Linked DNA regions of Homo sapiens. The protein of the gene in region 1 interacts with the protein of each later gene in a pairwise test. Each region holds a gene or a part of one and is shown on either strand. Other genes may lie near its edges.

Evidence for each region. Proteins that work in one complex are often made in the same cells at the same time.
Region 2: the proteins of TRIM35 (region 1) and NRF1 interact in binary tests that used the Homo sapiens proteins (3 or more experiments, as listed by UniProt).

The regions. Positions count from the first base shown.
Region 1 is NC_000008.11:27,300,356-27,305,471, forward strand, and holds part of TRIM35 (E3 ubiquitin-protein ligase TRIM35), read right to left. Parts: intron 4,489-5,116; exon of another isoform or gene 4,406-4,488; intron 1-4,405. UniProt on the Homo sapiens protein: E3 ubiquitin-protein ligase that participates in multiple biological processes including cell death, glucose metabolism, and in particular, the innate immune response.
Region 2 is NC_000007.14:129,618,220-129,621,719, forward strand, and holds part of NRF1 (nuclear respiratory factor 1), read left to right. Parts: intron 1-3,500. UniProt on the Homo sapiens protein: Transcription factor that activates the expression of the EIF2S1 (EIF2-alpha) gene. Links the transcriptional modulation of key metabolic genes to cellular growth and development.

The DNA.
Region 1 (5,116 bases):
TTTAAGGCACTAAGTTTTGGGCAATTTGCTAGGAAATAGAGAACTAGCCCATTGGTTAGAACTAGCCCACAGAACCCTGACTGCAGCCCCTCATGAGACACCTTGAGGCAGAGGCACCCAGAGCTAAGGCAGGCCCAATTCCTGACCCAAAGAAACTCAAAGATAATTAATGTTTGTTTTAAGGCACTAAGTTTTGGGGCAATTTGCTAGGAAATAGAGAACTAGCCCATTTGTCCCACTCAGTAGCCCATTCCTTTAAGTCTTTCACTACAGAAAACAAAATGGTTACTGATTTCATTTTCTGCAGTTCTGTTTTATTTTCAACTCATTTTGATCTTTTAATCTTAAGTGACAATATTTAAGATTTTTAAACTTTGTTTTCTGTAGTATATCATCTCTAATTTGCATGAGTGCCCCCACAAAACCACTGAAATGTCATTCCAATGTTTTATTTTATAGAATGAGATTTTTGATACAAAATCATGTAATACAGTTCAAAAGGAAAATTTAGTGATTTGCCAAATTAGTTAAGTGACAGGAGTGAAGCAGCTGTCCATACGCATTACCCAAAGGTGTGCAGGCCCCAAAACAACACAGTTCAGCCCCTGCCCTTCAACCCTGGCCCTTAGGAATTTATGGGACAATAAGGATGGGAAGGGGATAGTCCCTTGATCTTCTCAAACTTTTCAATCACTTGGAGAGTTCTGGTTTCCTTCAGAAAAGACCAATCCTAAAATGGCCCTTCTCTGAGATGTCAGCTGATGAGACTAACCAACAATTATATTACTATTGCTAGCAAGCAGTTACTATTAAGCATGTACTAGACACAAGGCACTAAATTATGCACTTTACAAACATTCTATTTAATTCAATTATTTAATTCGAATTCTCCCTATAAGGTTAAGCACTGTGAGTCCCATTATACAGAGGATCAAGTTAGACCCAGAGGAGGTAACCTTCTTGTACATGTCTCCTGGGGACACATGGGAACTCGTTTCTTCATAATATATTCCTGGGGATAAAACTGCTGGGCCACCATATGTGTCTTCACTTTACTGCGTAATGCCAAATTGTTTTCCAAAGCAGTGGTACCAATTTTTACAGCAAGAGCAATGTTAATAGAAAATGTTTATTGACCACTTCAATGTTTATTTTTAAGTACTCAGTAAAGTATTGTCCATTTTTCCATTGCGTTGCCTGCCATTTTCCTAACTGGTTTGTGGGAATTTATTATATATACACAATGTATGTCCTTGATTAGTTAGAGGTGTAATGAATATTTTCTACTTCATCATTTATCTTTCTTAATTGAAATATGGCCAAATTTATTAGTCTTTTCCTTTAGGATTAGTATACTAGTTTTAAGAAACACCTCCCTACACTGAGATCACAAAAACAATCGTATTATTTCCTCAAAGCTTTATAGCTTTGCATTATTATTGTATAGCTCTGTAGTATTTTCTCAAAGCTTTATAGCTTTCCTTTCACATTTAGGTCTGATGTGGATACCTGGAGTTTATTTTTGCACATGGTGTGACCAGGTAGCTCATTGTCTCAGCACCATTATTTAAAAAGACCATTACTGCCCACTGGTCTGCAGAGCCACCTCTGTCTTAAATCAGACACAGATCTGTTTTTTGGTTCTCTCCATCTGTTTCTCTGGCCCATCTGTTTATCCTTGTGCCAACATCACACAGCCATAATTTCTATAGCTGTAAAAAAGAGAGGATTTCTGATAGGTTTCTCTTCAAGAATGTCTTGGCAATTTTTGGCCCTTTGAGGGTCATATAAATTTTAGAATCTGTGAAGTTGCATAAAAATAATCATGTTGAGATTTAGATTAGTACAATATTGTCTCTATAGATCAATTTGGGGAAAACTGAAAGGCTTAAATACTGACTTTACTAATCCACGAACATAATATATCACACCAGTTACTTAATGTTCTTTGATAGCTCTCAACGAAGTATATTTTTCCCTATCAGAGTTTTGCGTATCTTTTATTAATTTCTTCCTAGTTATCTTATTTTTTATATTATTGTAAACATATTTTTAAATTAAAAAAACCCAAAACAGGGTCCCCCTCTGTCACCCAGGCTGCAGTGCAGTAGTAGCACAATCATAGCTCACTGCAGCCTCCTGTGCTCAAGTGATCCTCCCACCACCTCAGCCTCCCAAGTAGCTGGGACTACAAGCATGCACCACCACACCTGGCTAATTTGTTTTAACTTTTTGTAGAGACAGGCTGGACTATGTTGTGCAAGCTGGTCTGAAACTCCTTGGCTCAAACGATCCTCCTGCCTCAGCCTCCCAAAGTGCTGGGATTACAGGTGTAAAACTCCCTGCCTATATTTTATTTTCTATTTGCTAGTGATACATAGAAATACAACTGGTTTTGCATCTTGATTTTGGATTCAGCATTCACCTAAACTTATTAATACTTATGATTTAACTGTAGAATCTTTATTTTCTACACATAGAAATCTCAGTGCAAAAATATGCAACCATATTATCTACACATGCCAGTTTTGCTTCCCTTCTTTCCAAACCTTACATCTTTTATTTATAATTATTGGCTTACTTCATTGACAAGGCTATCCCACACAAAACTGAATAGAGTTGGTCATAATGCGCATTCCTGTCTTTTTCTTGATCTCAATAAGAAAGCTTTCAATGTTTTGCCATTAAATGTGATATTTGCTGTAAGTTTTTTTGCTAGATATACTTAATCAAACTAATGAAATTCCTTCCATTTCTAGTTTCCTGTTTTTTTAAACACAAAAAGATGGTAAATTTTATCAAATGTTTTCTCACTGAGATAATTATATTAAGCAACACAGAATTAGGTTTCGTTTTCTTATCCAGTCAGATCAACATTTTCATTTAACTGGAGTATTTAACACATAATTACCGATATGTTTGCATTTAAATCTGCCACCTTGTTCTGAGCTATTTGTCTTGCTTATTCTATTTTTCTTTTTCTTCCTTTCCTTTTTTAAAATTTACTACACATTTTTTATTCCATTTTCCCCTTCTGTGCATCTAGTGGTTCACCTAGGAAATATGACATGTAAGAAGTGTGAATTTGAATGCATCTAAACAATATTATTTTGTTTGCTTTTGGTATTAATTTTAACCCTAAATATGCTTAGATTACAAATAGAACTACCACTCAAGGGGCCTGCCTGTAGCCCAAGGAGCACATGAATGAGCAGAGATGGGCAGTAGCAGGGGCCCACAACAGATCTGGAGCATCCCCCAGCCCAAGCTCAGGAGAGCAAACAAGCTTCGATGTTAGCATCACATTATAACATTAAGATTTTTTATTTATTTATTTTATATTTTTTACTTTTTTGAGATAGAGTCTCATTCTTCTTGTCCAGGCTAGAGTGCAGTGGCGCAATCTCGGCTCACTGCAACCTCTGTCTCCCAGATTCAAGCAATTCTCTTGCCTCAGCCTCCCAAGTAGCTAGGATTACAAGTGCCTGCCGCCATGCCCAACTAATTTTTGTATTTTTAGTAGAGACAGGGTTTCACCATGTTGGCCAGGCTGGTCTTGAACTCCTGATCTCAGGTGATCCGCCCGCCTCGGCATCCCAAAATGCTGGGATTACAGGCATGAGCCACCGCGTCCAGCCTACGTTAAAGATTAGTTATAAACACACACAAAATAGGTTTTTATTCATACTAAAGGATCCAGAATGTGATCATATAGACTACATGATTTCCCAAAAATGACAAGTTGATTCCTTAAGCAACAAATTTCAATTGCATATTGAAGATCTTAAGCACTTTACAAAATCACGTTACCCACAATTTTCATTAACAGGACAGGTGCTCTGTGGTATAGCTGGAAGCAGGAAGGTAGGGGCAAGGGAAAGAATGAATTTCATTGCACAAGGTCTTCATAGCCTCTTTGCAAGGACTTACCAAAGTGCTAGAGTTGCATGTGAAACCAGCTCTGTCTGGCCTGAGCCAGGTTTTCTGTCTTGTGAGACTTGATACACACTGTTGCTCTGCCTGGTTCCCACCTGCTTCCCCCAACTAACCCAACATCACCTTGAAAACTCGGCTCTAGTACCCCTCATTTCCTCCAGGAAGCCCCCCGATCTTGCCAGCTCAGGTTCCATTCCAGGGCATCACAGCACCCTGGCCACCTCTGTCTCAGCACTCACTATCCAGGGTAATAGCTTCTCTTTCCTGAGGGCAGGTCTTAACCTCCAGGTCCTCTCTACCTTGCATAGTGGTGCTCGGTACACTTCTGCAGAAGGAATGCTTGCTCTGCAAGGTGAGAGACTTTGTTTTGTCCCCTGCATGTCCAAGTCCCTGCACAAAGTAGATGTTCAGTTAACCACCTGCCCAGTCAATGAGTACATGGAATGCCTGTGTTTTTTCTGCTATATACCTTGCCTCCTGGACTGAAGGTTAGGAGAGCTGGTTTGGAGCCTTGTCTTTGTCACTATCCACTGGTGAGTTGGTAAAAAGTTCCTTCTCTCTTCGGCTATCAGGCTCCTCACCTTAAAAATGAAAGCAGAGAAGTCTCTACAGTCTCCCAAATTTCACGATTTGTTTTCAGGCAGATTGATGTAGCAGCCAAGAGTTCTGGCACCTGGCCGACCAGGTTCAAATCCCAGCACCTCTACCTAGTAGCAGGTGATCTTGAACATGTTCCTTCACTTCTCTGCACCTCCATTTCCTCATCTGGATAAGAGGGATAAAAAATACTACCAAGCTCAAAGGACTGCTGTGAGGACTCCACAAATCAATCCCTATAAGATGCTTACATGAGAGTGGCAGGCACATGCTGTGCATTCGGCATAGCTCTTAAGTGCCACCTACATGCCAGGTAACCTAACTGTCCTGCTGGATATGGTCCAGGTTTCTTAAATGAACAGTAAAAATGCATGGAGCTTTCTTATGCAACTCCAAATCAGTCTCCCAGATCTGTCTTTCCCCTTTGTGTTCAGACCTCCTTCCAAAGCAAGTGTCTGCCATGCAGCCCACTGCTGGAGGCCATCACTCAGGAGCCTCAGTGTGCAGGGTCTAGTGAGACACCCCCCACTCCCAATACCACTGGGCACAGGCCTGGACAAGCAAGCAAGCAACAATGTCCTCT
Region 2 (3,500 bases), on another chromosome or scaffold:
AAGATAGGGAATGTATAGGAAGAACAGAATTTGAGGAGGAAGGTAATAGAGTATGACTCCAGATGTGTTAAGATATCTGGGAATCAAGAAAGGTCAAGTAAGTACCTGGGTATTTGGGCTGGAGCTCAAGGGGACATTGGGATAAATTAGGGGATTTGCATTCATCAGTATAATGCCATATAGAAACTGCAGAAAGCCAGGCATGGTGCCTCACACCTGTAATCCTAACACTTTAGGAGGCCAAGGCAGAGGATCACTTAAGGCCAGGAGTTCAAAACCAGTCTGGGCAACGTTGTGAGACCCTGTTTCTACAAAAATTTAAAAAATTTGTCAGGTATAGTGGTAGCCACCTGTGGTCTCAGCTACTCGGGAGGCTGAGGCTGGAGTATGACTTGAGCCCAGGAGTTTGAGGCTGTAGCAAGCTATGATAGGGCCACTGCACTCCAGCTTGGGTGTCAGTGTAAGACCCTGTCTATAAAAAAGAAAGAGAAAATAGTACAGATTGAGTATCCTTTATCCAAAATGCTTAGGACCAGAAATGTTTTGGAGTTTTTTTTGACTTTGTAATGTTGGTATGCATATAATGAGATACCCTGGAGATAGGGCCCAAGTCTAAACTTGAAATTCATTTGTGTTTCATATACATCTTACAACCTGGATGCAGTTTTATACAATATTTTAAATAATTTTGTGCAGGAAACAAAGTTTTGATTCCATTCTGACTGCAACATGTCACCTGAGGTCAGGTGTGGAATTTTCCACTTGTGGCATCATGTCAACACTCAGAAAGTTTCAGATTTTGGAGCATTTCAGATTTTAAACTTTTGGATTAGGAATGCTTAACCATATCAGGAGTGAAGAAAAAAAACTAAGGGCAACCTTGAAGAGCATCTACATCTGAGGGTCAAGTAGAAGAATAGAAACCTATGAAGTAAGTTGAGAAAGAATGGCTAAACAGATAAGGTTATAGGGTTGAAGAAGCTGAAGAGAGGGATTAAGTGAATACTGACAGGGAAGTTAGCCGTGTGAAATACCACAGAGTTCATTGGTTTGGAGGGCAATGCCGGAGGATCGCTTGAACCCAGCACTTCAAGACCAGCCTGAGCAACATAGCAAGACCTCGTATCTATTAAAAAAAAAAAAATCATTGGGATAAAAACTGGACTTGGCATACGTGTATATATATATATATATATATATATATATATATATATACACACACACACACATATATATACACGTGTGTGTGTGTGTGTGTGTGTGTGTGTGTGTATATATATATATATATATATATGTATTGTTTTGCTGGGAACCATGATAGTTTAGACAGAATAGATTTCTAGAGCATTACTAAATTCAGGGGTAGGTCCTACAGAATCTAACTTAGTAGAAGACCCATGCTTAGAAATAGGTCCTGTTCTTCCATGTCTCTCTGCAATGGGAGTTGCAGCTTAAATGCTTTGGGAGATGACCCCCAATGACAAGGCTGCCTAAAAATCTCCATATTGTTTGGGTTGTTTTTTTTTTTTTTTGCCTCTTTTACATTGTCTTAAATTCTGAGAATTGGAGATTTCATTTGAGTTGACAGTGTCTTAAAATACAAATAACCTCTTGCAGAGTTTTGAGGTTTTATGATATTAATATGTTAAGTATGGGGGTTTTTAACCTGGGGTTTTCTGGTTCTGGGGTTTATATATTTTGGCTGTGTGACCCTGAATCCCTTAAAATTGTTTGAAAAGTTATGTGTGAGTGCATGTGTGATTTTTCTGGGGAGAGGGTCCACAACATTTATGAGATTTTTCAAGGGGGCTGTTGACACACAGAAAAGTCAAGGGCCTTTACTAAATGTTAATGATTAAATCAAGTGTTGGTTGTGTTCGTTGGCTGAAATCAGTTATCTCAACAAGTGAGACAGATCAAGGGAAAGAAATCTTGAGTAGGTGTCTCAGGTGAAGAACTTTGGAAAGATACGAGGAACTTCTTAGAAATGGGAGTAGGAGCACCAGAAGGAAGGTAGGAGGAATGCCAAAGCAAAGCTTAACCGATTTCAGAATTTTGTCAAGTCTCTGGATTGCTTGGTTTTTTTATACTCTAGGACTGACACTTAGTATATGTTTATTCATGCACTGTAGATACAGTAGGCTTTATGGGGTAGGGGAATCAAATCACTTTTTTTTTTTTTTTTTTGAGATAGAGTCTCGCTTTGTCACCCAGACTGGAGTGCAGTGGTATGATCTTGGCTGACTGCAACCTCCGCCTCCCGGGTTCAAGCGATTCTTCTGCCTCAGCCTCCCAAGCAGCTGGGATTACAGGCGCCTGCCACCATGCCCAGCTAATTTTTTATTTTTAGTAGAGATGGGATTTCACCATATTGGACAGGCTGGTCTTGAATTCCTGACCTTGTGATCCGCCCGCCTTGGCCTCCCAAAGTGCTGGGATTACAGGCATGAGCCACCGCACTGGGCCCAAATTACTATTGTTTTAAAGGGAAAGTGTTTTGAAAGAAAACAAATTGATAGATTGTGCTTGTTGGAAAAAAATTTTTCTACCAAGCTGGCTCATCTGTCAGAAAAAATTCATTTTTAAGTTAGGTGTTGCTTATGCTTTGGAAAAAATTTTAAATGCACAAATATTTCAGTCTAGTGATATGGGGCAAGACATTTATTTTCTCCTTGCAAATTTTTTCTGACCATGAAATGAAAATACCGTTGATGGTTTTTGTAGTGTCTTTCTGAAATATGACGATTATGGAATACTTTGAGATCCAGGATGATTTAATGCTAAGAAATTGCTGGCATTCACATTTCTAAAGTCGTGAATAAAATTAAGAAATTCAAGCACATTATGTGTTCACTAGATCTTACTTGATTTCCAAAATATTTCTTTTTGAAATTTTAGATAATTGGTAATTTTTACTTCCTTCTGCTAATCTTTGCATCTTTGAAATTAGATTAGGAGGCAGTTTTGTCAGCTAGGCCCTAGTTTCTGGGGCAGTGATATCCATACTTTTGCTTGCCACCCTCAAAATAAATTAATGCCACTTGGGATTAATTTGTGATTTTTCTGGGGAGAGGGTCTACAACTTTTATTTATTTTACCAGTAGTCTTGGTAAATACAAGAATGATATGAATAAATATGTTGGGTAATCTTAAACTTGTGTTATGTGATTTGTAATTAGCTTGTGTTTGTGGATGATCTTTACATTCAGTAAATCTCCAAAGAGGGCCCAGATAGAATGGAGTATTTTGTCTTTTCCTTTGGGAACTTTTTTTGGTTCTTTCTTTCATTAAACAATTATGAAATAAAATTTTTGGTAACAGATCTTCCATGTAAAAATAGCCCACAAATCAAAGAACTAGCCAAGATTTGCTAAGTAAGAACACATCATGGAATACCATCATAGAACTAGTCTCTTACCCCAAAACTAGCTGTAGGTGCTAAGTCTAAAGAAGAAGTAATTCTGATATGTTACCAGAATTATGTGGTAATGCGACTGAGT